Linked DNA regions of Homo sapiens. The protein of the gene in region 2 interacts with the protein of the main gene of each other region in a pairwise test. Each region holds a gene or a part of one and is shown on either strand. Other genes may lie near its edges.

Region 1 (4,350 bases), on a different chromosome or scaffold from region 2:
ACTGAGGCGGGTGGATCATGAGGTCAGGATATCGAGACCATCCTGGCCAACATGGTGAAGCCCCCACTCTACTAAAAATACAAAAAGTAGCTGGGCGTGGTGGTGGTGGTGCATACCTGTAGTCCCAGCTACTTGGGAGTCTGAGGCAGGAGACTCGCTTGAACCCGGGAGGCGGAGATTGCAGTGAGCCGAGATCGCGCCACTGCACTCCAGCCTGGGCGACAGAGCAAGACTCCCTCTCACAAAAAGAAAAAAAGAATCCAACAATATTTTAAATATTGTTACATATAGCCAATATTCATTCAGATTCACCATGTATCTACCATTTTCATTCCTCTTCATTCCTCCCTGTACAAACTTCAATCTAGATTTGTTTTTTCTCTACCTAAAGAATACCTTTTAGTATTTTCTATAATGCAGATCTGTTGATGGTGAATTCTTTTAATTACTGTTTGTCTGAACATGTCTCTATTTTGCCTTCATTCTGGAAGGATCTTTTTGCTCCATATAGAATTCGCCATTGACAATTCTTTTTCTTTAGCACTGTAAAGATATTCCATTGTCTCCATTGTCTACTGGCTTCCATTATTTTTGTTGAGATGTAAACTGTGAGTTCCATTGTTGCTTATTTGGAGATAATATGTATTTTGTTCTAGAGGCTTTTTTTTTTTAATGGAGTTTCTCTATTGTCGCCCAGTCTAGAGTGTGATGGAATGATCTTGGCTCACTGCAACGATCTTGGCTCACTGCAACGATCTTGGCTCACTGCAACCTCCGCCTCCCGGGTTCAAGTGATTCTCCTGCCTCAGCCCCCCGAGTAGCTGGGATTACAGGTTCCTGCCACCATGCCCAGCTAATTTTTGCATTTTTAGTAGAGATGGGGTTTCACCATGTTGGCCAGACTGGTCTCAAACTCCTGACCTCAGGTAATCCACCCACCTCGGCCTCCCAAAGTGCTGGGATTACAGGCAGGAGCCACCACACCCAGCCTGTTCTAGAGGCTTTTAACGATATTTTTTCCTGTTTAGTTTACAAGATGTCTTTGATTTATAGCAGTTTAATTCTCATCTGCCTCAGTGAGGATTTCTTTTTGTTTATTTTTCCTGTTTGGGGCTAGGCCTTCTTGAAACTGTCTTATTATCCTTCTTCAGTTTGGGAAAATTCTTAGCCATTACCTCCTCAAGTATTAACTTCTGCCCTATTATCTCCCTCTCTTCCTCCTCCTAGGATTCAAATTATGTGTCTGTTAGCCCCTCTCAATGTATCCTATGTGTCTCTTACCCTCTCCTCCATATTGACCATCTTTTTGTCTCTATGTTCACTCTGTGGAGTCTCTTCTAAAGCTCTAATTAGAGAATCCAGTTCCTGAATTCTTTCTTAATCCATGTCTATTCAACTGGAAAGCTCATTGCATTCTTGATTTCAGTGGTGTATATTTTAATTCTACAATTCTCATAGACCTTTTTTAATTAATTAATTATTATTATTATTATTATTTATTTTTTTTTTTTTTAGAGACAGAGTCTCACTCTGTTGTCCAGGCTGGAGTGCAGTCTTGTGATCATAGCTCACTGCAACCTCTAACTCCTGGGCTCAAGATCCTCCTGCCTCAGCCTCCTGAGTAGTTGGGACTACAGGCACGCATCACCACACTAGGCTATTTTTTTTTAAATTTCTGTAGAAACGGGGTCTCATTTTGTTGCCCAGACTGGTCTGAAACTCCTGGCCTCAAGTGATCCTCCCTGTCTCAGCCTCCCAAAGTACTGAGATTACAGGCATGAGCCACCATGCCTGGCTTCATGGATCTTTTAAAAACAGATTCTAGTTTCCTATCAAAATTCTCAAGCTGTCTTTAATCTTCTTAATTATTGTAAGCATAGTCTTTGTAAAGTCTATATGTATGACTCTATATGAGAAGCCCTGGTGCATCCTTTTTTAAGATCTGATATTTTGCTAGTGCTTATACAAGCTATCTGGTCTCCTCATGACCACCACCCCCCTTTTTTAAATTGAATGCTTTTATTTGCAAAATTGTGAAAGTAATTCAAGACCTTAATCCAGTTTTAGGGACTCAGATGAGTCAATCTGAGCTTCAGACCTTGAAAGGCCTGTTGGCTTGTGGTTCACTGTCTCCTCTAAGGGACAGTGCTTTGGGGTCACAACTCAAAAGAATGGGGCTCACCAGAGAACACCCTCCCTTGGTGTATCCTGAACTCCATTACCTGTTCCCTATGCTCTTAACACTATCAAAAGCCCACTTGGTTTCCCAACTGCTCCACTTTGGAATGTTCAAGTGCCTTCAGGAGAAAACAGGCCCCCAACACCAGCTTCACCTCTCTGGGCCATCATCTTTTCCTGATCCAACCCAGGAAGTGTGTGTGTGTGTGTGTGTGTGTGTGTGTGTGTGTGTGTGTGTGTGACGGAGTTTCACTCTGTCGCCCAGGCTGGAGTGAAGTGGCATGATCTCGGTTCACTGCAGCCTCCGCCTCCCGGGTTCAAGCGATTCTCTTGCCTCAGCCTCCTGAGTAGCTGGGATTATAGGCGCCTGCCACCACACCTGGCTAATTTTTGTATTTTTAGTAGGGACAGGGTTTCACCATGCTGGCCAGGCTGGTCTCAGAGTAAAGTGGCACGATCTTGGCTCACTGCAACCTTCGTCCCCCGGACTCAAACGATTCTCCTGCCTCAGCCTCCTGAGTAGCTGGGATTATAGGGGCCCACCACCACACCTGGCTAAGTTTTGTATTTTTAGTAGAGATGGGGTTTTGCCATGGTAGCCAGGCTGGTCTCAAACTCCTGACCTCAGGTGATCCACGCGCCTTGGCCTCCCAAAGTGCTGGGATTACAGGCATGAGCCACCGCGCCTGGCCTTTTTACTATCTTATTTGCTGTCCAGTACTATAAGAAAAAAAGTTTAAACATTTTGTCCAGAGTTTTTAAATTTATTTGTTTGCTTATATTTTTGTTCAGAGTTTTTAGTTGTCCTCAGAAGGAGGGTTGGTCCAAATTACCTAGTCTACTACATCTAGAAAGGACATTGGAAATTGACTTTTTTTTTTTTTTTTTGAGACGGAGTCTCACTCTGTGGCCCAGGCTGGATCGCCCAGTGGCACGATCTCGGCTCGCTGCAACATCTGCCTCCTGGGTTCAAGTGATTCTAGTGTTTCAGCCTCCCAAGTAGCTGGGATTACAGGTGCCCGCCACCACGCATGGCTAATTTTTTTTTTTTATTTTTAGTGGAGACGGGGTTTCCCCATGTTGGCCAGGCTGGTCTTGAACTCCTGACCTCAAATGATCCACCCACCTTGGTGTCCCAAAGTGCTGGGATTACAGGCATGAGCCACTGTGCCCAGCCACCAAGCATCCTTTTAGGGGCTGGGGACTCAGTGATAAACACACTGTGCCTGCTTCTTGGAACTCACAGTCTCACTCTGATCCATGTTTAGTCCTGTCCTGTATGATAATAGCAGTTGTCCATTGAGCTCATAAAATCTAAGACCGCGCTGGGCTTGTGAGCCACCTGCAGAGCCTAGCTTGGTGCTGAAAGCTAAGTGGGTGCTCTGTCATTACTGGGGTTCGATTGACTGGTTCTAACAGAGACCAGCTATAGAGCTAACACTTGATGGAATATTTTGAATATTGATGACCTTTTCACTGGCTTCTGCCTATGGCAAGTAGAGGTACAACCCAAAGAGAAGAGCCTCATTTATAGTGTGTGGCTGGGGGAGAGGGAGGTTTGCAAACTGAGTCATTTTCCCCCATTCAGCCTGTGTGTGTCTGTGTGAGTTCATACCTGTGTGTGTGCATAAAATCAAACAAGAATAAAATGTTTTCATTTGTTCCCTTCCTTCTTCCTCTCTCTGTCTCTCCCTGTTTCCACAGGTCAGCGTTGAAGTTTTGGTAGAGTATCCTTTTTTTGTGTTTGGACAGGGCTGGTCATCCTGCTGTCCGGAGAGAACCAGCCAGCTCTTTGATTTGCCGTGTTCCAAACTCTCAGTTGGGGATGTCTGCATCTCGCTTACCCTCAAGAACCTGAAGAACGGCTCTGTTAAAAAGGGCCAGCCCGTGGATCCCGCCAGCGTCCTGCTGAAGCACTCAAAGGCCGACGGCCTGGCGGGCAGCAGACACAGGTATGCCGAGCAGGAAAACGGAATCAACCAGGGGAGTGCCCAGATGCTCTCTGAGAATGGCGAACTGAAGTTTCCAGAGAAAATGGGATTGCCTGCAGCGCCCTTCCTCACCAAAATAGAACCCAGCAAGCCCGCGGCAACGAGGAAGAGGAGGTGGTCGGCGCCAGAGAGCCGCAAACTGGAGAAGTCAGAAGACGAACCACCTTTGACTCTTCCTAAG
Region 2 (4,350 bases):
GCTCTAGGGCACCTTAATCAGATCTCATAAAGCCAAGGAGGCTTCTGGGATGTAGCTGCCTCTGTTTTAGTTTCCCATCTAAAAAACCAACACACCAATCCTTGCCCTGCCTGCTTTCCTAGGGGACATTAATACCACAGAGTGTCTGCCCAACCCCCAGTTTTTCTGGGGAGGAGTATGAACCACCCTGCCTCAACTTCTAGGTCCCAGCCTGGAGACTAGTCAGGGACCGCAAGAGTGTTCCTGGCCATGGGCATACCAGGGCCATCATTTTCTCCTGCCAGGATCAGGACTAAGTGGGTCTAAGGGGGCATCTAGTGAACTTGGGTTTCACTTGCTGCCTGCTTATCTGCAGTGATGGGCAATGAAATTATCTGCAGTGGTCAGCAAGTCAGCAGTAGAGCTGGGATGGAAACCCAGGAGTCAGAGCTTTCCCACACTGTGGTCCATCAGCGACCACAGGCTCCTTCCACACATGGTCCAACCAGGACCACCTGTAGTTACAACCTTGCCAATTACATCCTAGCTCTCACAGCCACACCTGTCCACAGACTTAACATGCTGAGGAACTTGAAAGCTGGGGCCTCCGATCTCTCTTACTGATCAGCCCTCAGTATTGGCTACTGTTTCACTTTTTAAACATAACACACACACAGATACACACACGTTCATTGTAGAAAAATTAGAAAAGACGGTAAGCAAAAAGAAGAAAATAACGATTGCTCCAAATGCTGCCTTCTTCATATTTTAATGTGTATCTTCTCAGATTTTTTTCCATGTATGTTACAATGTTTGCTTTTTTCCTTCAACATAATTTTTTCCTAATTAAAAAGTTACAATAAATTGTGAACAATGGTTATTTCTGAGTGCTGGAATTACTGGTGATTTTTATTTTCTTCTTTGTGCTTATGGAAATTTTCTGAGATTTTGAGGATATTCAGAACAATGAAGTATTAAAAATAAAATGGGAATATGGTTAGTGTTTTAGTATGACTGTAAAAGTAATATGAGTGGAAAGAGAATATCTAACATATACGCCGGTTAACAAAATTAAACCTTACAGAAGTAAGGCAACATATGATTGTTTTTAAATACCTCAAAAGTTACAGGAATACTGAAAGTAAAAAGTTTCCATAATCACATTCCTGGGAAGTAAACCACTGCCAACACCTTGTTGTATATTCTTACAACCTTTTTTCCTTCCGCTTATTTTTATAAAATTAGGAGCATAGTTCCGTTACTTGCTTGCTTCCTATCTCCTCTAGCCTTTGGTGTCCCCCAGTTTCGCCAGCAGGGAGCCCAGTTTGGGACATTAGGGTCAGCTAGCTTTCGGATTCTAGTTGAAAGGGCCAGGGCAGGGGCTTTCCTTCTCTCTGAGCCTCAGTTTCCTCCCATGTATAATGAGGTAACGCCACCTCTCCTTAGGGCTGTAAGACGTGGTCCAGTCGTGTAAGAAGTGTCCAGTACTAAGCGGACGCTCAGAAACCCCTTCCCCAAAGACTGAGCTCAGGGACTAGGACCCTGGGATCCCTGCTCCCAGCCAACTCCCGCTCCTGACCCTTCCAGGGACAAGCTCCCCCCACCCCCGTCCTTTCCAGGCTGCCACTAGAAGAGATGGGGACGCGTGGTCAGCTGCTTCTATCGCCCCCAGGGAACGGCCTCACGTTGGAGGGGGCAGTGCCCTCGGAACAGGACAGTCAACCCAAGCCGGCCAAGCGCGCGCGGACGTCCTTCACCGCGGAACAGCTGCAGGTACCGCTGCAAGCAGTGGGCGGCGGGGGCGGGGGCCGGGCCGAAAGTGGGCGGGGCCGACAATGTCTCCTGGCTCCGCCCCTCGGGCCGGACCCGGGTGGCGGGGCGGGGCCGCAGCTGCCTGGGGCGTGGCCTGTGGACTGGCGCCGCTGATTGGGCCGGGGTCTCGGAGTCTCTGCGTGCGAGCGCCTCACCGCCCTCCCCGCCCCGCAGGTTATGCAGGCGCAGTTCGCGCAGGACAACAACCCCGACGCTCAGACGCTGCAGAAGCTGGCGGACATGACGGGCCTCAGCCGGAGAGTCATCCAGGTGGGACGGGGGTGGGCGGGGCCTGGGGACCGCGGGCACGCCCCGGAGCTCGTAGCTGGGCTCGGCGCGGAGGGTGGTGCGTGCACGTGGCCATCCTTCTCCAGGAGGCGACGAGGCAGTCCCGCCTGGGGTCTCCCGGCGGCGCGTCCGACTCTTTTCCTCGAGGCTGAGGCTGCCGAGGCTGTCGTTCCAGGTGTGGTTTCAAAACTGCCGGGCGCGTCATAAAAAGCACACGCCGCAACACCCAGTGCCGCCCTCGGGGGCGCCCCCGTCCCGCCTTCCCTCCGCCCTGTCCGACGACATCCACTACACCCCGTTCAGCAGCCCCGAGCGGGCGCGCATGGTCACCCTGCACGGCTACATTGAGAGTAAGTAACCGCAGCGCCGGGAGCCGCTGGGCCTGCGGGGAGGGGGCGCGGAGGAGCGCACGTGGGCGGCTGAGGCCGAGGCGTGGGGTGGAGGGCCTTGGGGAGCCTCGTGGGTGAAGAAGCGGGACCCGAAGTCATTTGGATCTAGGAGTTGGGGGAAGAAGGGTCAAATCTTCGGCTCTGCCTCAGTGGAGCGGGATCCTTCATAGAGGCAAGCGATTCAGCAGCCATTCAAAAAATGCCTTCAAAGCACCCACAATGTGCCAGTGCCCGGAGACTGGGGAGAGAACAGGCTGGACAAGGTACCTACTCTGTGGAGCCTGCGTTCTGGTGGGCATGGAAAAATAGGCAGATGAGTGTGTCGTTTTAAGTGGGATGATTCCTGTAGGAAAGGTGCTGGGTAGGAGTGACTGGAGATGCTGCGGGGTGGAAGGGAAGGGGCTGGGCTGCCTTTCAGCAAGCAGAGACTGAAAGGATGGATAGGATTTAGTGAGGTACCTGGAGTGGGGGAACGGAATGCACGCAGGCCCTGGCCCAGAAAGCATCGTGGCATGGGTGTGTTCTGGGGAGCAGAAGGCCAGTGTGATGGGAGTGTCCAGGGCTGTGAGGCCTTAGGCAAGTCACCTAACCTCCTTGAGCCCTGGTTTCCTCATCTGTAACCTGGGATGTCAATAATGCCAGCCTCACAGGGTTGTGAGACACCATTCATGCATTCAGTAGCTATATCTTGAGTGCCTTCTGTGTTCTTTGCACTGGGATACGACAGTGAACACAGTAGACCAAAGCTTCTGTGCTCCTGGGGTTTGCACTCCAGCATGGGAGATGGTGGAGATGATAAAGTAACAGGGAGGGAGCAGGCATGTCCGTGGCAGGGAGTACTGTGGCGGAGATGCAGGGGCAAGCGGGTCATGGTGAAGTGACTTGTGAGCGGGAACCTGGAGGAGTGAGGGAGGAGCCCCGGGGATTTCTGGAGGATGAGTGTTCAGTGAATCTGCTGCTGAGCAGGTGCCTATCACAGATTGTCTTTCCCTTTGAAGTTGTTCCCATCAATTGTTTCCTCTAAGCTGGGCATGACCAAAAAAATGTAAATGACTGCGATGCACACAGACACAATTCCTCCCTTCTCTGGCTCCATGTAAGAGGGAAAAAGAAGGGAAATCAGACAGAGAACTGCTGCTTACTGACCATATGCCATATATTCTACTGACTGTGTCTCTAAACATCAGAGGCCACCATCTCCTTGAATAGATGAGGAAACCAAGGGCCCACTGTAAGTTAGTGGGAGCCGGTATGCCTTAATGATCGAGTGTGGGCTTTGGTTTCAGATTGCCAGGCTTCACATCCCAGCCCTGCCATTTACTAGCTGTGTGACAGTGGGTGAGTTTCTTAGCTTTCTTGCATACTCATTCCCTCATCTGTAAAAATGAGGACAACAGTATCTCAAAGCAGTGTTCTGAGCATCAAACGAGGTAACTGAAAATCCTCAACATTCAGCAAGTGCCGCATAAGTATTGGCTGCTCTTGTGATGGTGGGAGTGGTTTTGGTTGGCAGAACTAGGAGTGCAGAGCCCTGTCTTCGCACCAGGCTGCCAGTTGGAAACCATGTCTCTTTATATAGTTCCATTTCTGAACTATCTGCTCAATAGGAGCGACATTTTCCCCCTTTCTTTTCTAAACAATAACTATATTCAGGCTGCACAGAGCCTGTTAAAGGTGCCAAGGATCAGGGGCGCTATAAGTACCAGGGGTCTGAGCTACCTGCTAATACTTGGTGTAGAGTCAATAAGAAATCTAGATGATCCCTTTGGACTTGGGGCCATGACCTCCAGAGTCCCTGCCAGGACTCTGTCCATACACTCTGTTGACCAAACTTAGATCTGTCTTTGCTGCTTAGAGAAGAGGCTGAGGTGCCCTCTCCTCT
Region 3 (4,350 bases), on a different chromosome or scaffold from region 2:
ATAAAATTAAAACTGCTCCAAAAGGCAACCCCGAAGACACATTTTAAATTCATCAACTCAACCCAGTCTTCTCTTTATAGTATAGTGATGGAGCGACAAATGGAAAAGGCTATAAATCAAAGAATATCAGTCTTTGGAGGGACAGGCTTAACTATTACACAAAGACTTTCTAGCACAAGATGTAGAAATGACAAAAATTGAGGTGGTTAATTTAGGATGGAAAAGCAACCAGGCAACTCAGTCAGAGGAACTCTCACCCTCTGCTTTTGCTCTTCTGTGCGGACATCACTCCGGACATTTGCCCAGGGGATATCTTCAGGCCACCAGATGGGCTTGCAGCTTTCTTTCCCCCAGCCTGGTTTTCCCCGACCTGTAGAGTACTTGAGCATCTCTGGGATAAATGCCCGAAGCTGGGCCTGGAAGAGAACAGTGTGGTCATCAATACTCATGAAAGACATCTGGGGTGTGTTTATGACTCCTTAAATTCTAACCTTATAAAACAGAGAGGTTTCCAGGAAGGTCCCAGAGAATTCTAAGATGTGACTGATGAAAACCCACTGTTTTCCATAGGTTCCTATATCTCCATGGGTGGTTGAGAATTATAAATATGTTGATAAAGTGCACCTTAGGCTGCATTTTGTAGACTTGTTCCTCTAAGAGTAAGAATATCTACCCCTAAGTTTAATTTCTGCTTCCCAAGATATTACTGGTACTATAGCTTATTTCCCTTCTACAGTTTTCATGCATGTAAGGTGCCAAACTCGGGGTGTTTTCAACACTGTTCTGGAAGTAGGAATCCATGCAATTAGATAAGAGAGAAATAAGAGGCGAGCTGATAAAATCATTATTATTTATAGATGAAGTCACCTTATATCTAGAGAATTCCAAAGAGATCAAATGAAAAACTACTACAAACAATAATGAGAATTCAATAAGGTGGCTGATTATAAAATATAGGAAAACAAACAGGCCTTTAACTTAATAAAAAGGGAAAATAACCCTAAAACTCTTCTAGAAATTTTCCAGTAAGCTAGGCCACTGTCCATGAGTCTGACATATAGACATAGTAAAGCATGTGTGAATTTAAATGCATTATGGACTTCATTCAGATTTATTTTACAAATCAAATCCAGACCAAACAGGTTTTAAACCACAAAGACAACTGCCATTCTTATTTCCTGGCATAGTAACCACACTCTGTGTGTGTTGGGGGAGGGTCTACTTTGTGAATATTCTTAATCGCTGATAATGATTTCTGGCAAGAAAAGCAGTTTATCAATTTATGATCTATTCCTCCTTCCCAGACCTACTGTCTTCCTTTTAACCTGGTGGTCTATAGCACTCCAGATATAAGTAGCATCCTGCAACTAAGGATGCACCCATACTGCCCCTGCAGCTGAAAACCAAAAAGAGGCCACTTTTAGCAATGAATCAGACTCGGGGGTGTGGATTTGTAGTTACAAAGTAAAACAAGAAAAAACAGAAATGAGAATAATTAAGTATTAATGAGAGAATGAGTACAGCAACACTTTAATATTAAAGATTTCTATAAATATCAGGTATTCTTATCATTCTTATAATAAATATTAGATATTATTTTACGAGAAGATGATACAAATTGTTACATAATAGGGAACCATGAACCCAATCAGTAATGTTGACCTAATAAAGTTCTGGTTGACGGTAGCCATGCTGTTAATTCCTGTGCCAAGCCTGCCACTTCACCTCTCTAAGTCCCCCAATGCCCCAACAGTCTCCTGCCTACAGGATATGATATAATACACTCCATATATATTTGGCTCTGGCATCAAGCAGCAGGCTGATAGAAACGTATCCATTTAAAAACCCATCAGCTGGCTCATGCGGTCATTACTTCAGTTATTTTAAGAAAGTACATCTCAAAGTCATTTTTCCCTTTATTCTAATTTCTTGGGAGTGTGTCTTTTTCTAGGCTCAAATACATAGAGCAAGAAAGGGCTTAATCTTCACACACAATATTTTATACTTCTTCATGTTAAAAAAAATGGCTTTCTCAGAGGTATAGATTAAATTGATATAGACTTTCATAAACTCCCTTTTCTTTGAATACCATTAACAGTTTCCAAAAAGGAGAATTCTTTATATTCATACCTAGGAGAGTCTGGAGAAAATGAAATGAGAAGGCTAAATAATTCTAAATTAACAAAATCCTAAAGTGGGTTGGGTGCAGTGGCTCATGCCTATAATCCCTGCACCTTGGGAGGCTCAGGCAGGCAGAATGCTTGAGACCAGGAGTTTGAGACCAGCTTGGGCAACACAGTGGGACTCTGTCTCTACCAAAAATACAAAACTCAGTCGGTTACAGTGGCACGTGCCTGTAGTCCCAGCTACTAGAGAGGCTGAGGCAGGAGGATCGCTTGAGCTCAGGAGGTCAAGGATGCAGTGAGCCATGATGGTGCCACTTCACTCCAGCCTGGGTGACAGAGTGAGACCTTGTCTCAAAACAAAACAAAACAAAACAAAACAAAAATCCTAAAGCGGGTGACAGAGCAAGACCCTGTCTTAAACCAAACAAACAAAACAGAAATCCTAAAGTGATCAGAAAGCACTCACTGTGGAGAATACTAGACTGACAGAGTCTGCTCAGATCCACCTGGAACCCTCTATATTCCCTAATTCTGGTGATCGCTTCACTTCTGACGCCTCACCCTATTTGCACCAATAGTTCCTTATGCTCCTCAGTTCTGGGTCACGTTGGCACCTGGACGTGGATATCTTTCACCCTCAAGTCTTCCTTCGGCTCTCCCACCAGGCCTTCCAACTGAGTTCCAATAACTCAATGTTACTTGAAAGGTGGGCTCAGCATCAGCCTCTTCACTTAAACTCCTACCCTACCCTCTCTCCAATCTACTTGTCTTCTCAACTTTTTTATCTTAGCAAGTAGAAAACCACCCTTTCCCCGGCCACTCAAACTAAAAATGTCAAAGTTATCTTTACTTTTCTCCTTCAACACTTACCTAGTCACACATTGCAAGTCCAGTTCTTTTGTTTTCTTTGAAACGTCTCTGGTGTCTATCCCTTCTTCTCCGGCCCCACCTTTATTCTAATTTTTTGGCCCAAGGCTAGTGTATCCTTCTAGTTGGCTTTCTTGGGAAACTCCAAGTTCTCCCTTCATTCCCTCTTCCCACATATCCTTGCCTGAGAGGTTTTCCTAAATGTTACCTACATAGCTCCAATGCTCAAAACACCTCCAAATGTCTTTTAACTATGGCAACTAAACTAGATCCTTCTGCCCAGCTTTTCAGACCCACCACAATCTGGCCTCACACTACAGTCAGTTCCCATTAATTCCCACCACTCAGCCTTGGTCCTCCATCAGACAAATCTCTGCACTGTCTTAAGAGCTGCTAAGCCCATTCCCGCTTCTTTGCCTTTGTTCTGTCCCCTGGCTGGACTATTTTCCATGCTACTATTCTAATGCCGCCACTCATTCTTTAGTGCCCAGAAAAGTCCTACATTCTTTGTGGAACATATACTAACTATTCATTCATTCTCTCTCTCTCTCTCTCTCACTCTCGGATCTTGCTCTGTGGCCCAGGCTGGAGTGCAGTGGCATGATCACAGTTCAATGCAGCCTCAACCTCCAGGGCTCAAGGGATCCTCCTGTTTCAGCCTTCAGTAGTTGGGACTAAAGGCGCATGCCACCATGCCCAGCTATTTTTTTTCTTTACTTTTCCTTCTTTTCTTTTTTTTCTTTTTGTAGAGAAGGGGTCTCCCTACATTGCCCAGGCCAATCTCCAACTCCTGGACTGAAGCAATCCTCCTGCCTCAACCACCCAAAGTGCTGGGATTTCAGGTGTGAGTCAGTGCACTCAGACTCACTTCTCTTAAGTTAGCTCTTTCTACCAAAAAGAACACAAGGGCCGGGCTTGGTGGCTCACGCCTGTAATCCCAGCACTCTGGAAGGTCAAGGAGAGCAGACTGCCTGAGGTCAGGAATTTGAGACCCACCTGGCCAACATGGTGAAACACCGTCTTTACTAAAAATACAAAAATTAGCCAGGCATGGTGGCACATACCTGTAATGCCAGCTACTCAGGAGGCTGAGGCAGGAGAATCGCTTAATCCCGGGAGGCGGAGGTTGCAGTGAGCTACGATCGCTCAACTACACTCCAGCCTGGGCAACAGAGCAAGACTCCATCTCAAAAACAAAAAACAAACCAAGAAACAAAAAAAACCCACAAGACTCAGAGTTGGCTCTGAATATTAATGTTCTCATCTGCAAAACAGTAATAATAGCAAATATACAAGGTCAATGAAGAGGCTGAGATAGCAGGTATATTAATTAATAGAAGTTTTATTATTATTACCT
Region 4 (4,350 bases), on a different chromosome or scaffold from region 2:
ACAGTATTTCCTGGGTTGAGAAGATGATCTCAGAGAAAGAACTCTGGTCTTAGGCACCCCTGCCAAATCCCCAACATCAAAGCCTCAAGTCAGTTCTACAACCTCAAAGAGCTCCCAGTTCCTTGGTTCTTATCTTAACTGTATGGGTCTCATGCTTTATCAACCATCCAAAAGTAGCAGGAACTCCCAACAAATGAAGTGATGAAGTGAGATAGTACCAGGGTAACAAGTTGTATCTGGCCTTCTTAGGGATGAACTATTCACCAGAGGGCCAGCTCTAAGGGAATGTCAAATAGAGGCACTAGAAAAGAGGCACTCTGGCTTCCAGGTAATGACAGTATAATGAGCCTGAGACCCCGAATGACCTGTCCAACATCACAAATCCTTCTGATTCTGAACTGGAAGAGAGGAGCCTGAGTACGCCTCATACATTTTTTTTTTTTTTTTTTTTTTTGAGACAGAGTCTCGCTCTGTCGCCCAGGCTGGAGTGCAATGGCATGATCTTAGCTCACCACAACCTCCGCCTCCCAGGTTCAAGCTATTTTCCTGCCTCAGCCTCCCCAGTGGCTGGGACTACAGGCGCCTGCCACCATGCCCGGCAAATTTTTGTATTTTTAGTAGAGATGGGGTTTTACCATGTTTGCCAAGCTGGTCTCGAACTCCTGACCTCAGGTGAACCACCCGCCTCAGCCTCCCAAAGTGCTGGGATTACAGACATGAGCCACCACACCCGGCTGGCCTCATACTTTTGCCAGCAAAAGAGACAATTGCATAGGATTTGTGAGACCATCACATTTCTATATCTTGACTGATAGCTGCCAGGGTAAAAGGCATTTGAAGTTTGTTGGCAGCTTTAGGAAACAGCACTCAAAACAGGTTAGGGCCATCTGTTAAAGACAATGGCTTCAGCTGCACTTGGATTTGTATTGCAGGTGGTTTTTTTTTTTTTTTTCTCTCTTTTTGAGATGAAGTCTTGTTCTATAGCCCAGGCTGGAGAGCAATGGTGCGATCTTGGCTCACTGCAACCTCCGCCTCCTGGGTCCTGGTTCAAGCAATTCTCCTGCACGCCACCATGCCCAGCTAATTTTTGTATTTTTAGTAGAGATGGGGTTTCACCATGTTGGCCAGGCTGGTCTTGAATTCCTGACTTCGTGATCTGCCCATCTCAGCCTCCCAAAGTGCGGATTACAGGTGTGAGCCACTACACCCGGCCAGGTTTCGTTTTTTTTGTTTGTTTGTTTTTTCTTTTTTCACTCTCCAGGACAAAATTTCCCCATTCCATTACGTGGTAGATGTTGACTATGTCTCCTCTAAACTAATTTTGTGGGTGACTAATTTTGTCAATTAGGATGAGCTATATCTTATACTCTTATCTGGTCAAAGAGACTCTCCTCACGATATAAACGTAGACATCTAAATGACACAAGAATAAACACAGCCACAGGGACAGTTTCCAGATGCAGTTAAAGGGTTACACTGCCACGGAGTGTGTTTTCCTTAACACCTGACTCTTTTAGGGGAAAATAACATTCTTACTTTCTGTTACAGTGATTATAATTTAAGTTCCTGGAGAGCATGCCTTTCAGCCTAATTAGCACCTAACAAAGAATGTGCCCACAGATACCAAATGATTAATACTACTAGGTTACATAGCTAACTGAGCTCTTTAGCTCAGATTTGAATCCTGATTCAGTTCTGCTTATTGTAATATCTAAGTTGAACTCCTGAGACCAGATATGAAACTCTTCATCTACCACAGAACTGTGAGCTTCTAAGAGAAGCTCCTGGCAAGGAAGTAAATGTTGAACGAAAGAATGGAGGAGGGAAGGAACTGAAGCCCCCACCACTCCAACCCTTCCCAACCACTCCCAACTCTTCCCTAGTCCAGCTAAGTGGATGACTTTTCCCTCATCGGGATTACCATCTTGCCTCATCTTTGACATGCACGTTCACTGTTTCCACGGAGACCCAGATCAGGAACAAGCTTTCCCTGGCTAATGTCACACTCCAGCCCCATGTTTCGTCTGCACTTGGCAGTGAAGCCACAACAGGGGGTTGTCTGCGGTGCTCCCTGAGGGCACAGATTCGTCTTCTCCATCATCGTATCCTCATGTGACATAGTGCCCACCACATGGCAGGCACTCACTGGGTATTACTTCAGCGAATGAAGGAAGAAATCTTATTGCCAATACCACTACCTGGTGTAGAACTCAGCAGTTTCCAAAATGCTCTCAGATACACATATATTATCATGTTTATTCTAAGCACTTAATTCATCAACTCCCACAATAGGAGGGGCTGAGAACACAACTCATTCCTAGTCTAAAGTGGTCATTTTGGCTGGGTGTGGTGACTCATGCCTGTAATCCCAGCACCTTGGGAGACCGAGGCAGGTGGAGGCTTGAGCCCAGGAGTTCAGGACCAGCCTGGGCAGCATGGTGAAACCCTCTCTACCAAAAATACAAAAATTAGCTAGGCGTGGTGGTGCCCATCTCTGTAGTCCCAGCTACTCAGGAGGCTGACATGGGAGGACTGATTGAGCTGGAGAGGTCACTGCTGCAGTGAGCCTCCATGATTGCGCCACTGCACTCCAGCCTGGGTGACAGAACAAGACCTTGTCAAAGAAACAGATAAGGGGCCGGATGCAGTGGCTCAAGCCTGTAATCCCAGCACTTTGGGAGGCCAAGGCGGGCGGATCACAAAGTCAGGAGATAGAGACCATCCTGGTTAACACGGTGAAACCCCGTCTCTACTAAAAATACAAAAATTAGCCGGGCGCGGTGGTGGGCACCTGTAGTCCCAGCTACTCAGGAGGCTGAGGCAGGAGAATGGCGTGAACCCGGGAGGCAGAGCTTGCAGTGAGCCGAGATGGCGCCACTGCACTTCAGCCTGGGTGACGAGCGAGACTCCGTCTCAAAAAAAAAAAAAAAAAAAAAAGAAATAGACAATAAAATAAAATAAAGCAGTCATTTTGCAGATGAAGAGACAGAGGCCTGCGTTGCCAGAGGAGTCCCAAAGGATCACATAGCTACCTGGTGGCAGAGCAGGGCCTAACACCTGACCACCAGTGTTCTTCCCATACTCCGCTGTCTCTTGCCAGGTGATGGTGTTCTTTTATTTCCTGAGAGTAGACATTTCCTAGGCTCCAAAAGACTTGAATATCCAGCTGCTTACTCAACATCTCGACTTTGATATCCAAAAAACACTTCGAACTTGACATGTTCAAGAGTGAATTCCTTATCTCCTCCTTCTAACAACCTGCCCTCCTTCCAGGCTCCCCAATTTCAGTAGATGGGAATTTTACCATTTTGTTACTTAGGCCAAAAATGTGGGAGCCAGGCAGATCACGAGTTCAGGAGTTTGAGACCAGCCTGGCAAATATGGTGAAACCCCATCTCTACTAAAAATACAAAAATTAGCCGGGTGCGCTGGCATGCACCTGTAGTCCCAGCTACTCAGGAGGCTGAGGCAGAAGAATCACTTGAACCCAGGAGGCGGAGGTTGCAGTGAGCTGAGATCACGCCACTGCACTCCACCGTGGGCGACAGAGCGAGATGTCTTGAAAAAAAAAAAAATTGTAGCCACCCTCAACTGCTATTTCTTTTATATATCACATCCAGTCCATCAGCAAATCCTGTTGGCTCCTTTCCAAATACATCCAGAAGCCAACCACTTCTCACCTTTCCATTGCTTCACCTTGGGTTCAAGCCACCAACTTCTCTTGTTTAGACTATTGTAGTAGCCTCCTAACCAGTTTCTCTCCTTCCATTTTTGCCCCGTTATAGCTTATTCTCAACACAGCAGCCACAATGACCTTTTCAATATGTCAGGCCATGTTATTTATCTGCCTAGAATTCTCTAATGGCTACCATCTCACTCACAACTCACACTACAAGCCAGTGGCCTGTGTGATCTGCCCCCAATTCACCCCCACCGCAACATCTGCCATTTCTTCTCTCACTAATATACTGCAGCCGTATTGGCTGGCTTCCTCATGTTTCTTGAATATATAGGGCACATTCCTGCCTCAGGGCCTTTGTGTTTGCTGTTCTTCCTGACTGGAATAAATTTCCCCTAGATGTATGCTTGACTTACCCCCTAACTTCCTTCAGGTCTTTGCTCAAATGTTACCTTTTTAGTGGGAACCTCTTCAACTACCCTATTTAAAATTTTAACACCCAGAATCCTGGCATTTTCTTCTTCTTCTTCTTCTTTTTTTTTTTTTTTTGAGACAGAGTCTCGCTCTGTCGCCCAGGCTGGAGTGCAGCAGCGTGATCTCAGCTCACTGCAACCTCTGCCTCCTGGGTTGAAGTGATTCTCGTGCCTCAGCCTCCCGAGTAGCTGGGATTA
Region 5 (3,500 bases), on a different chromosome or scaffold from region 2:
TGCCAGAAAACATTTTAAGTTTTGACTTACTTAAAGCCTTTACATTACAAATGCCTTTATGTTATGTCTAAAATAGAAGATTGGTTGCAGTTATTACCAGTGCTTTTGTTCTTTAGAGTCCATAAAACAGACCTGGAACGAGTGTTAGAAGCAAATGATGGCTCAGGAATGTTAGACGAAGATGAGGAGGATTTGCAGAGGGCTCTGGCACTAAGTCGCCAAGAAATTGACATGGAAGATGAGGAAGCAGATCTCCGCAGGGCTATTCAGCTAAGTATGCAAGGTAAAGACATTCTGATGTGTGTTGTATTCATTGCTGAAGAATTGATTCCAATTATTCTTAGATTTCATGGAAGTTAATGTACTCTTAGAGGTGTTTTGACAATTACTGCAGAAGCAATAGCTATATAGTGGGCTTTCCCTTTAGATTTCTTATAATGGAAATCACTTTTTACAACCTATATTTTATTAGGAGTAGTTATATTTTTACTCCTGGTTATTTTATTTGGTTTCAACACTGTACTAACACAATAGTAAATTGTGGTTTTAATCTTTGTGGGTATCAGTTGACCCTTATCCAAATCAGCTGTTACATAAATATGTGCCATTAGACACTATGGAAGGGCCTGGACAGGGAATATAAACTGATTTTACAAAAACCCAACATTTATTGGCTATGCAACTTAAACCGTAAGCCCACTTTGGTGGGCCCAGTTTTTTAGTGATATAAACTATCAATAGAGAAAAGCGAAAACATATCCCCTAGACAATCTAGGCAAAGAAAAATGTTAAGACATAGCTCAAAGTAGCTTAATTAAAAGTTTGAAGTGGGTTTTTTGTTTTATTTTTTTCTAACTCATATGTATTTGCTTCTACTTTCTAATGAAATTATTTATCAGTTGATTTCCTTAGATATCTAAATAAAATTGAAATTTCATTAATGGGAAGATTATTTTTATCCTGAACTTTTCTTGCCTCTATGCATGCCTCTGAGTACTCCATATGGTGTGCAATCCCATTTTTGATTAATAGAGTCCTGCTGGATTAGCAGGGACAGAAATCAGCTTTAGATTTCTTTCTTTTTTTTTTTTCTTTCTTTTTTTTTTTTTTTTTTTTTGAGTCAGAGTCTCACTGTCGCCCAGCCTGGAGTGCAGTGATCTTGGCTCACTGCAACCCCTGCCTCCGAGGTTCAAGCGATTCTCCTGCCTCAGCCTCCTGAGTAGCTGGGACTACAGGCGCCTACCACCACGCCCAGCTAATTTTTTGTACTTTTAGTAGAGATAGGGTTTTGCCCTTTTGGCCAGGCTGGTCTTGAACTCCTGACCTCAGGTGATCCACCTGCCTTGGCCTCCCAAAGTGCTGGGATTACATGTGTGAGCCACCACGCCCAGCCAGAAGAGTAGAATATTCTTAAAGAGAAAACGTTTTAAAGGCTTACTCAAATGAGTATAAACAAACATATTGTTGCTTGAATTGGTAAATACAGTGATTGGTTTTTGTTGTGTTGTGTTTTGTTTTCAGGTAGTTCCAGAAACATATCTCAAGATATGACACAGACATCAGGTACAAATCTTACTTCAGAAGAGCTTCGGAAGAGACGAGAAGCCTACTTTGAAAAGTAAAGTAGTTGGTACAAGTTAAAGTAGCATGTTTAATATTTGCTTTGGCTATTTTGTCTATTTGTAAATGGTTACTGCCTGAATCCTGTGAATATTTGAATGTATTTTTTAAAAATTTACAGCAAATAGGACGGGCACGGTGGCTTACGCCTGTGATGCTAGCAGTTTGGGAGGCCAAGGCGGGCAGATTGCCTGAGGTCAGGAGTTCGAGACCAGCCTGGGCAACACAGTGAAACCCCATCTCTACTAAAAATACAAAAGAATCAGCTGGGCATGGAAGCGTGCGCCTGTAGTCCCAGCTGCTTGGGAGGCTGAGCCAGGAGAATTGCTTGAACCCGGGACGTGGAGGTTGCAGTGAGCCGAGATCGCACCACTGCCCTCCAGACTGGGTGACAGAGTGAGACTCCGTCTCCAAAAATATATGTATATATATATAAATAAAAATAAAAATTTACGGCAAATAACATGAAACAAAAAAACCTTGCCCCAATACTGGATAAATTTTTTAAACTGAGTGAAGGAAACCTTATAAAATTTCATTTATTAAAAGAAAAATGAAATTAGGACAAGACAAGAAGAATGCCAATTGATCCTTTGGATGTACTTCTTGCTTACCTGATTAACCCTGCAAAATTCCTCTACCAATCAGTACGAAAAACAGCTTTGGAGGTATGGGAGCGCATTCCCAAATAGACGTGGTAGTTCATTTAGCTGCTCATGGCCGCTTCAGGCAGTCCTGTAAGCCTGTTAGCATCAGGGGAATGGATGCAAACCATAAATCTGGATCAACTCCTAAAACCTTACCTTGTGCCCAGCCTTGTAAGTGCTTGCTAAATAGGAATTCCACCATATGAAAATACATTCTTTTCAAGTAACTATCATTCAGACTTTTGTCCCCCACTTTTTTTTTTTAAAGAAAAATAAAAGGCTGGGCACGGTGGCTTACGTCTGTAATCCCACCATTTTAGGAGGCCAAGGCAGGTGGATCACCTGAGGTCAGGAATTCAAGACCAGCCTGACCAACATGGTGAAACCTCATCTCTACTAAAAATACAAAAATTAGCCGGGCATGGTGGTGGGTGCCTGTAATCCCAGCTACTTGGGAGGCTCAGACAGGAGAATCGCTTGAATCTGGGAGGCAGAAGTTGCAGTGAGCTGAGATAACGCCATTGCACTCCAGCCTGGGGGACAAGAGCGAGACTTCGTCTCAAAAAAAAAGAGAAAGAAAACTTCATGTTAAAGATTACAAGATAAATAATCAGACCCACTGATCCTAGGTCAGAAAACAGAGTCATAGCTCAATCTGACTTACTATTTGCTGTATTTCATCCATTCTGAGATGCACATAGTTTCACATTTCAATGTCTCTGAAATTGAGAAGCATCTTACAGTCATAATTGACAGTATATTAGCAGCACCTATAAATATTGGCTCATTTTACATTTGATGGTATAATGAAGAAAATATTTACCTTTTTTTCTGTTTTGTTTTTAAGTCACAACTCAGAAGTAGATGAAGGAAAATTCTGATCAGCTGACATCCTCTTAATGTGAGATATTTCTAGTCTTTATTCAGTATAGATTAATGGCTAATTATATGTTAAATTTCAAAGTAGTGCTTATTAGTGCTTTTTACTTTTAAGTTTCAAAATTAACTTTTTTATTATAATAAACTCCAAATTTATACAAAAGTAGAAAAACTAGCATACTCCTGTTTATGACCCAGATTCAACAAATACTAGCACACGGCCAATCTTGCTTTTTTTTTTTTTTTTTTTTGAGATGGAGTCTTGCTCTGTTGCCCAGGCTGGAGTGCAATGGCACAATTTCTGCTCACTGCAACCTCTGCCTCCTGAGTTCAAGCGATTCTCCCACTTCAGCC
Region 6 (4,350 bases), on a different chromosome or scaffold from region 2:
GGGTTCAGGACGGCGTCTGACACACGAGAGTGGTCACCAATGCCACCCACACATCTCCCTACCAGAGCACAGTCCCTACGGGAAGACCCTGGTCCCCACAAGGAAGGCCCCTGTCCTCATAGGGATGAATACCTTGGGCAGGATGTCCTGTCCTGAGAGACAGGACATCAGTCTAGGGACCCCAAGAAGGAGCAGCCAGTGTGGCAGCAAGGGCCCCGGGCCTGGTGGGGGAGAGGGCTCTAAGGAGAAGAGCAGTCATCTCTGCCCACGCTGCTGACAGATCAAGTCAGACAAGGACAAGAAGTGACTGAGCAAGGGGGGTCACTGATGGCCTAGACGAGCCGCTTTGGTGGAATAACATGGCAGAGGCCTGAGAGCAAAGGACGGAGGACGAGAGAAGGGGATGACAGACGCCCCTTTCTGGGAGTTCTGTTGGAAAAGCTGGCAGAGAAACAGATGATGCCTGATGGGAACGTTCTGATAGAGGGGAAACAATGGGGGTGCTGGGGCCCTGTCCCTGAGGGCCTGGCGGAGGGGACCACAGGCTGGCAGCGCTGACTCCTAACTCGCCCCCAGCAACAGCGACAGGGCCCAGCAGCAGGTGTGCCCGGCTCATCACAAACCCCTGTGGGACTGGGAAGTGAGGTTGGGGTCCAGACTCTGCCTGCAGTGCCCCCCAGGATGGAGACCCAGGCTGGGCTGCTCCTGCCCAGAGGCACCTCACTTCAGGACAGCAGGCACCATGCCACCTCGGTGGCAGGACACTGTCACAGCCTCTCTGGTCCTCGGGCTTCCTAGAGTCACAGATTTCTTCCCACTTCCATGTGAGGTGTTTCTTTGTCTCCCCCAAATGGAGCAGGAAAACAGCAGCGCAAGCACCCATGTCCGCCCACGCAGAGGCGAGGGCTCTGACCACACCCTATGGACGGTTTCCTCACGGGCCCAGTGGGAAGGTGGGATCTGTGCTCCCACCTGTACTCTGCCCTACATGCCACAGAGGCTTCTAGGATGGGCGAGGTCCTTCAGTCCCCTTGTCTGATCATCTCACTGTTCAGAAGGGGAAACTGACACCCAGAAAGAAAAATGAGACCTGCCCATGTCACAAGAAGAGTCTGTGGCAGACCTGGGTCTTGGCCCATCCCCCCATTGATACTGAGCCCCCAAGCCTCCTGCCTGTCTATCTTCTCCAGGACAGGAGCTCCCAGTGCCTCAGACTGCAGAGTCTACCCCACGTGGATGGAAGACAGTGAGGCTGGCCAGCTGCACGTGGAGGATGTGACGTCTCTTCTCAGTCTTTGACCACAAACATCCCAGAGGCACCCCCAGCTCAGTGTGCCCCAGAGACTCTATCCCCCAACCTAGGCTCTGCCCACTCTGTTCCCTGCCTACCTACAAAGGGCCTACGCTGGGGCAGAGCCCCTTCCACACCCTGCTGGGTCTCCTGGGCCTTTGCTCATGCTGTTCCCTCTGCCCGGAGCCCCTTCCCCTAATGCCCTCCTCATCCTTCCCCACTCAGGACCCCCCCGCCAGTCCCCACCCCCAGTATTTCCTTGTCCAAGAGGGACTGGCACATCATGGTTTCTGTCCTGGGTCTGCCTTCCCTCCAGTGCGTGCGCTCCAGGTGGGCAGGGTCTACTCCCAGCGTCCAGAACACTGAGCCCCAAACGGACCGCCTGAGATCCTAGCAGGGCCAGGATGGGGTCGCACAGGAAGGAGAGGTCGCCCTGCAGGCGCAGGCTGGGAGGCACGGGTGAGATAGGGCAGGCCAGGATGGAGTCGCACAGGAAGGAGAGGTCGCCCTGCAGGTGCAGGCTGGGAGGCATGGGTGAGACGGGGCAGGGGCTGCACTCACACTCGCTGCTGACCAGGCGCTCCAGCATGCGCCTCTGCTTCTGCAGGGACTTGGGCACGGGGCCTGGCTGCGCCCCTCCATCTGCAGGGGACAGGGTGGATTAACAGTCAGACAAGTTGACTATCTCCTCGTGCCCTGCAGCCCACCAGAAACTGGCGCACTGTTCCTAGGGCACGCCAGTTCCAGGGGCATCCTACGTTCTGGGGATCATAGGGCCCCCAGGGCAGGCAGAGCAGGGGCCACACCTCTGTACCTCCAGTAGCTGGGGTGGACTCAGCACCACGTAGCGTGCTCCCACTTGGTGATGGACACAGTCCGTCCCATTGGTAGACGTGGTCACAGAGCACTGGGCAGAATACCCTCTGGTTTATTCAATGAGTGAGCACTTGAGCCAGGGCAGATGCTGTCAAAATGCCACCCACACACCTCACCACTAGGGCACGGTCTCTACAGGAAGGTTCTGGTCCCCTGGTCCCCACAAGGAAGGGCCCTGTCCTCACAGGGAAGGTCCCGGCTCCTGTGGGAAGACCCAGCCCCTGAGGGAAGGTCCCAGCCCCTATGGGAAGGTCCTGGCTCCTGTGGGAAGGCTGGCGCCCAGGGAAGGCTGGTGCCCAGGGTGAATCCTCGCACCGTGCTCGTTGACCTGGCCGACATTCTCCAGCAGCTCCGCCACGGCCACCTGCTTCTTCTTCTTGGGGTTGAGCTTCCAGTACATGACCAGGGCTGCCTTGCGCACGGCCCTCTCCAGGTCGGTCTCGGAGGAGAGCTGCCTCACCTCCCGTTCGTTCTCGGACGTGATGCCTGAGGGATAGGATGTGGTCAAAGGCCTTGTGTGCCCTGCCTAGGCTTTCGGTGCCACTCTGACCCTGCCAACTCTGCCTGGAAGGCTTTCGAGCGAGACTCATAGAAGGTGTCAGGACTTGGTTACCAGGGAAGGATGCATGGACATCTGACTCAAGAGGACATCGCGCCACGCCCACTCTCCAGCTGGGAGGCCAGACTGGTCTCCCACCAGACGCCCCCAAGTGCCCCCTACATGCTGGCGGGAAGAAGGCAGCCTCTTCCTGTTCCTCCCCTCTCTCAGAGGTGCAGACCCGGAGGCACAGGCCTGTGTTCTGGCTCACTCAAGGTCACACAGTCAGAAAGAGGCAGAGCTGTCTTGAACCCAGGGTGGACTCACTGCAGTCACCAGCCTGGGTGCACTGGCAGGGCCACCCCTGTGTCTACAGAGCTTTCCTCTGTCTCACACACAGCCCAGCCCTTTCTAAGGAAGGCTTGGACAGCGGGGAGAGGGAGAGCAGGTTTTACCGCTGGTCAGCAGCTGCCTTCCTCCCTTTACCCCCAACGGCCTGGGACACTGGCACAACCAAGCAGAGGGCAGGAGGACTGGCACGGGGGTCTGGATGTTTTTCTCCTTTTGAACATTTCCAAAATTTTCCACATGAGCATGTATTTCTTTTCAAATCAGAAAGCACAACTGCACATCAGAAGGTGTGTGCAGCTGGGGGAACACGGGGCCAACCGGCCTCCTCCCTTGCACGCTCTGCCCCAGCAGCCTCTGGGCTATCCCTGGCACCCAACAATGAGCCGTGTGGGCCGCCTGAGCCCCCTCCAGGTCATTCCAACTGCTCTGGAATCAGCAGGCTGGGTTGGTGAGAAATTCTGGCTAACAATGCCACTGTTAGTTTTTCAAAATCATCAGTTTAATTTTCAAAGAGAAGACTCTGTATAATAAATGTAACTCTTAAAATATGATACAAGCTGGGCATGGTGGCTCACGCCTGTACTCTCATCACTTTGGGAGGCCAAGGAGGGTGGATCCCCTGAGGTCAGGAGTTTGTGACCAGCCTGGCCAACCTGATGAAACCCTGTCTCTGCTAAAAATACAAAAATTAGCTAGGTGTGGTAATGCACGCCTGTAATCTCAGCTACTCAAAAGGCTGAGGCAGGAGAATTGCTTGAACCAGGGAGGTGGAGGTTACAGTGACTTGAGATCGCACCCCTGCACTCTAGCCTGGGCGACAGAGTGAGACTCCATCTCAAAACAACAACAACAAACACAGAAGGAAATACACCAAAATATGGGGAGTTGCTTCTGGGCTTCAAGGTTATGAGTAATTTGTATCTTTATGTTTTCTACATAGTCCAAGTTTTCTATGATAAGCATAAAATACTCTTACAATCTGAAAAAAAAGGTATCATTAGAAAAAACACCTTTGTGACACCCACTTTCATCTTTCCCTGAGGCGTGGAACCTTCAGGAAGCACACTGCCCCACGGCACCAGGGACAGCCACTTCCCTTGCGCAGGACAACGTCCTAACTCACCACCCCTGGCCTGAGCTGCGTCCCTTTCCTCCCCTGCCTCTCTGTTTGAAAGAGATTATCTATGAAGGGTCAGCCTGCCTCCTCCCAAAGTGAACATGCTTGTCCAGGTCTGTGTGGGCCCACAGCCCCTCAGCTGGTCTGCCCAGACTCGACGGACATCAGCTCAGGGGC
Region 7 (4,350 bases), on a different chromosome or scaffold from region 2:
GAGTTAATTTTAAATATTTTATGAAGTGTGAATTATACCTTTTTAGATGGAATTTGGAATACTGAATCAGTGACATGCAGTTTATCAATATCTTTCCGTTTGTCCTCAGATTTCCAAGTTCTGCAAGCACAAGTTTCTTTGACTTAGTTACCTTTTAACTGTTCATTGAAATCATTTTCAATGTCTCTCATGGCATTTAACACATAGCACATTCTATAAATTTTTTATTGGTTACATTCTGAGTTCTAATTGAGAGTTGAACTTACACACAGAATTTAAGATAAAAAATGACCATGTGAAGACACAATAGTATAGTCCAGGGATTGGCAAAATTTTGGGTAAGGAATCAGATAGCACGTATTTTAAGCCATGAGATCTATGTCTTGGCCAGGTGCCGTGGCTCAGGTCTTTAATCCCAGCACTTTGAGAGCCCGAGGCTGGTGGATCACTTGAGCCCAGGGGTTTGAGACCAGCCTGGGCCACATGGTGAAACCCTGTGTCTACAAACAACGCAAAAATTAGCCGGGTATGGTAGCATGCATGTGTATTGCCAGCTACCCAGGAGGCTGAGGTAGGAGGATGGCTTGAGCCATACAGCTCACTGCAGAGGTTGCAGTGAGCTGAGATCGAGCCACTGCACTCCAGCCTGGGTGGCAGAGTGATACCCTGTCTAAAAAAAAGAAAAAAAAATCTATGTCTCAATTCTGCTGTTGAAGTGTGAAGGTAGTCATAAACAATAACTAGTGTGGCTGTGTCCCAATAAAACTTCATTTATCAAAACAGGTGGTGGGCTGGAATTGTCTTGTATGTTGTAGCTTGCTGACTACTGATAGAGTGGAAAGAACATGCACTAATCACACAAACCAAAGTTTTAGTTGAGACTACATCACTTATCACCTTTAGGGTCTTGGGGAAGCGTACTTAACATCTCTGAGCATCACTTCCCTGATTAGTAAAAAATATGATTTAGAAAACTGCAACTACCTTGCAGTTTTTGTGGGAATGTCATAATAAGACAGGACATATGAATAATTGAGCACACTTTTATATATAGGAACCATGGTTATTATTATCAAATAAACTCTCCAACGGAATAATTACTTTGCCAACACGTTTTCCATTTATTCTTTTATCCTTCATTACATAACTAGTTTGAAAGATTGGAGGCGACCAAAGACCATTTTATAATTTCACTTATGGCTGAAGATGTTTGGTAGAAGCCTCATAAGAAAAGTAATCTCATTCCTTTATAAGAATATACTTTTAACAACTACTTTTTAACTCATTGAAGAACTACCTTAATGATCAGTGTTATTTTTATGGGTTTTGTTCCCTCCATTTTTGTTATCTGCGTACACCAATTTTCAATCAACATACTTCAATTTAATAGACAAAAATTTCTTCAAATGACTCAGAAATTAATTAGATCTAAATCCAAAAGCAGAAAGATTTAATTATCTTTATATAATGCTCAGTAATATAAATGCAATAAATACAAGAAAATGATGATCTTTGAGTGTCTTCCAATGCCACTCTGCTCAATAAGCAGCAGTGGCCATCAGTGAAATTGATAGCAAATTCTCAAGTCAAAATGTGCTTCACCTCACTAAGCTGACAAAGTCAACATAACATGCACAACAGGGATAACTGAGTTCTCAAAACTCTCAGGTATTACTTCTGACCTTCTTCTCCACTCTGTGCTCTTTTGAGGTTGGGAAGACAAGATAGGGTGTGTGTGGGACACCTCCGCTCAGGGAAGCCATCAGCTCTGGTGTCCCTACAGCATTTATACCTTGCTAGTCACATAACCACTTGGCACCTATTTTGTAGGTGTACGTTATCAATTACAGATTACTCATAAATTAAAGGCTAACCATCAATTACAGATTATTAGTAAATAATTATGACCTCAAAGAACAACTGATTGGTTTGATACATGGTAACCTTATGAGGACTCTCATTTATCTCGTTTTTTTAAGTTATATACCTATCTCTTTGGGGTTGCACTACAAAAATATAAAATATGTTGCATAAGATATTTATAAAAAATAATTAATTATAAGTTCTAATGGTGTGGTTTAGTGGCATTCTTTTTTTTTTCTTTTTTTCTGAGATAGGGTCTCAATCTGTCATTTCACTCCAGGCTGAAGTGCAGTGGTGTGATCTCGGCTCACTGCAACCTCCGCCTCCTGGGTTCAAGTTATTCTCCTGACTCAGCCTCCTGAGTAGCTGAAATTACAGGCATGCACCACCATGCCCGGCTAATTTTTGTATTTTTAGTAGAGATGGGGTTTCACCATGTTAGCCAGGATGGTCTCGAACTCCTGATCTCATCATCCCCGACCTCGGCCTCCCAAAATGCTGGGATTACAGGCGTGAGCCATTGCACCCGGCCTAGTGGCATTCTTTTTTAAAAATAAATTTAATTGTGTATATTTAGGGTATGCAACATGATGCTATCAGATACATTAGACACTAAAAAATTACTATATTGAAGCAAATTAATATATTCATAATCTCTCATAGTTACCTTTTTTGTTGTTTTTGTGGCAAGGGCAGCTAAAATCCACTTATTTATCATGAATCTCAAATATAGTACAATTTTATCACCTACAGTCCTCATACATTAGATCTGTACACTTTTTCATCTTACACATCTGCTACTTGCTTGGATCCTATGGCCTATATGTCCCTATTTTCTACCTACTTTTCCACCCCTATTAACCCTGTTTTTTACGTAGTCTCTGTATATTTGAATTTTGTTTCAAGCTTCCACATATATGTGAGATAATGTAATATTTTTCTTTCTGTGTTTGGCTTATTTCACTTAGCATAATTTTGTCTGGGTTCATCCATGTTGTAAATGGTAGGATCTTGTTTTTTTAGGGCTGACTGATATTCCATTGTATCTATGTACCACAATCTTTTTATCTACCTATCTATCAGTAGACACTTTAGTTGTGGCTATTATGTTTTTCTTTTTTTCTTTTTTGGAGACAGGGTCTTGCTGTCACCCAGGCTGCAATGGAGTGGTGTTATCATAGCTCACTGTAACCTCAAACTTCTGGGCTCAAGAGATCCTCCTGCCTTGGCCTCCCAAGTAGCTGAGACTACAGGCATACATTACCATGCCTGGCTAATTTTTAATATTTTTTGTAGATATAGCATCTCACTCTGTTGCCCAGACTGGTCTCAAACTCCTAATTCAAATTTAGAATAGAGTATGACAATTCTGTAAAATATAAAAAACATGTCCACTCCGTATAGGAAGTTATACAATGAGAAGAAGACAAACACTATTTACATTACTCTTGATAAGTTTTTTACAAAGAAATAAAACACTTTAATTTCTAATGTTTTAAATTCTGGTTTGCTAAATAAATAAATATTAGTTTTAGTGTTTTTAAAATTCCTTATATAGTTATAAGTGATCTTCCTGCCTCAGCCTCCCAAAGCACTGGGATTCCAAGCAAGAGCCACTGTGTTGGGGCCCTTGGAAACAGATATGCTGAAATCTTTTCTTGTGGATCTACACCCAGAAGAGGGATTGCTGGGTCATATGCTACTCTATTTTTAATTTTTCTTTTATTTTTAGTGAATATGTAATAATTGTATATAATTGTGGGATCCAGAATTATATTTCCATACATGTATACAATGTGTGATAATCAAATTAGGGTAATTAACATATCCATTACCTGAAACATTTATCATTCCTTTGTGGTGGGAACAGTAAAAATTAAAAATTCTCTCTTCTAGATTTTTGAACATATGCAATAAACTATTGTTAAGTATATCACCCTACAGTACTACAGAATGCTAGAACTCATTCCTCATATTTGGCTCCAATTTCATATTCTTTAACCAACCTCTCCATATCCTCCCCTCCCTCTTACCGTTGTCAGCCTCTAATAATCATAATTCTACTCTCTACTTCTATCTCATTGTCTTTGATTTAGAATATGTTTCATAATTTAACCAAAGGTCAAATTCTTAGGTACTGCTAAGGCAAAGAACAAAGATCGCATTCCAGCTGTTAGACATTTCTTACTACTAGTCATTTTTAAGACAACATGGGGTGCAGGTGGTGAGGATGAGAGATAGAGATTGAAACATATTCTCTTAAATATCAGCTGTTCTCACTCTGCATAGTTCCAGCACAAACAAATTCCAGGTACTATGGTTAGTTAAATAACACCAGCCACTAACAACACAATTCAAATTTCTGTTACCACAGTATACCGAAAGTCATTGCATAAAGTACAAACTTTGCTGCTAACTCTTCAGCCTTCAAATCATTACATAAATAACAGAAACCCATTATAATCAGTGACAAAACCACAGCACTTC

Evidence for each region.
Region 1: the proteins of LHX6 (region 2) and ATXN1 interact in binary tests that used the Homo sapiens proteins (3 or more experiments, as listed by UniProt).
Region 3: the proteins of LHX6 (region 2) and NRF1 interact in binary tests that used the Homo sapiens proteins (3 or more experiments, as listed by UniProt).
Region 4: the proteins of LHX6 (region 2) and ZNF76 interact in binary tests that used the Homo sapiens proteins (3 or more experiments, as listed by UniProt).
Region 5: the proteins of LHX6 (region 2) and ATXN3 interact in binary tests that used the Homo sapiens proteins (3 or more experiments, as listed by UniProt).
Region 6: the proteins of LHX6 (region 2) and WFS1 interact in binary tests that used the Homo sapiens proteins (3 or more experiments, as listed by UniProt).
Region 7: the proteins of LHX6 (region 2) and SNCA interact in binary tests that used the Homo sapiens proteins (3 or more experiments, as listed by UniProt).

What each region holds. Positions count from the first base shown.
Region 1 is NC_000006.12:16,306,392-16,310,741, reverse strand, and holds part of ATXN1 (ataxin-1), read left to right. Parts: intron 1-3,882; coding exon 3,883-4,350. UniProt on the Homo sapiens protein: Chromatin-binding factor that repress Notch signaling in the absence of Notch intracellular domain by acting as a CBF1 corepressor. Binds to the HEY promoter and might assist, along with NCOR2, RBPJ-mediated repression. Binds RNA in vitro.
Region 2 is NC_000009.12:122,211,685-122,216,034, reverse strand, and holds part of LHX6 (LIM/homeobox protein Lhx6), read left to right. Parts: intron 1-1,598; coding exon of another isoform or gene 1,599-1,609; exon of another isoform or gene 1,610-1,651; coding exon 1,652-1,752; intron 1,753-1,965; coding exon 1,966-2,061; intron 2,062-2,254; coding exon 2,255-2,429; intron 2,430-2,638; coding exon of another isoform or gene 2,639-2,799; exon of another isoform or gene 2,800-4,350. UniProt on the Homo sapiens protein: Probable transcription factor required for the expression of a subset of genes involved in interneurons migration and development.
Region 3 is NC_000007.14:129,705,141-129,709,490, reverse strand, and holds part of NRF1 (nuclear respiratory factor 1), read right to left. Parts: intron 417-4,350; coding exon 258-416; intron 1-257. UniProt on the Homo sapiens protein: Transcription factor that activates the expression of the EIF2S1 (EIF2-alpha) gene. Links the transcriptional modulation of key metabolic genes to cellular growth and development.
Region 4 is NC_000006.12:35,265,385-35,269,734, reverse strand, and holds part of ZNF76 (zinc finger protein 76), read right to left. Parts: intron 1-4,350. UniProt on the Homo sapiens protein: May be involved in transcriptional regulation.
Region 5 is NC_000014.9:92,079,083-92,082,582, reverse strand, and holds part of ATXN3 (ataxin-3 reference isoform), read left to right. Parts: intron 1-116; coding exon 117-283; intron 284-1,521; coding exon 1,522-1,618; exon of another isoform or gene 1,619-1,630; intron 1,631-3,114; exon of another isoform or gene 3,115-3,168; intron 3,169-3,500. UniProt on the Homo sapiens protein: Deubiquitinating enzyme involved in protein homeostasis maintenance, transcription, cytoskeleton regulation, myogenesis and degradation of misfolded chaperone substrates.
Region 6 is NC_000004.12:6,289,500-6,293,849, reverse strand, and holds part of WFS1 (wolframin), read right to left. Parts: intron 2,654-4,350; coding exon 2,483-2,653; intron 1,934-2,482; coding exon 1,853-1,933; intron 1-1,852. UniProt on the Homo sapiens protein: Participates in the regulation of cellular Ca(2+) homeostasis, at least partly, by modulating the filling state of the endoplasmic reticulum Ca(2+) store.
Region 7 is NC_000004.12:89,829,812-89,834,161, reverse strand, and holds part of SNCA (alpha-synuclein), read left to right. Parts: intron 1-4,350. UniProt on the Homo sapiens protein: Neuronal protein that plays several roles in synaptic activity such as regulation of synaptic vesicle trafficking and subsequent neurotransmitter release.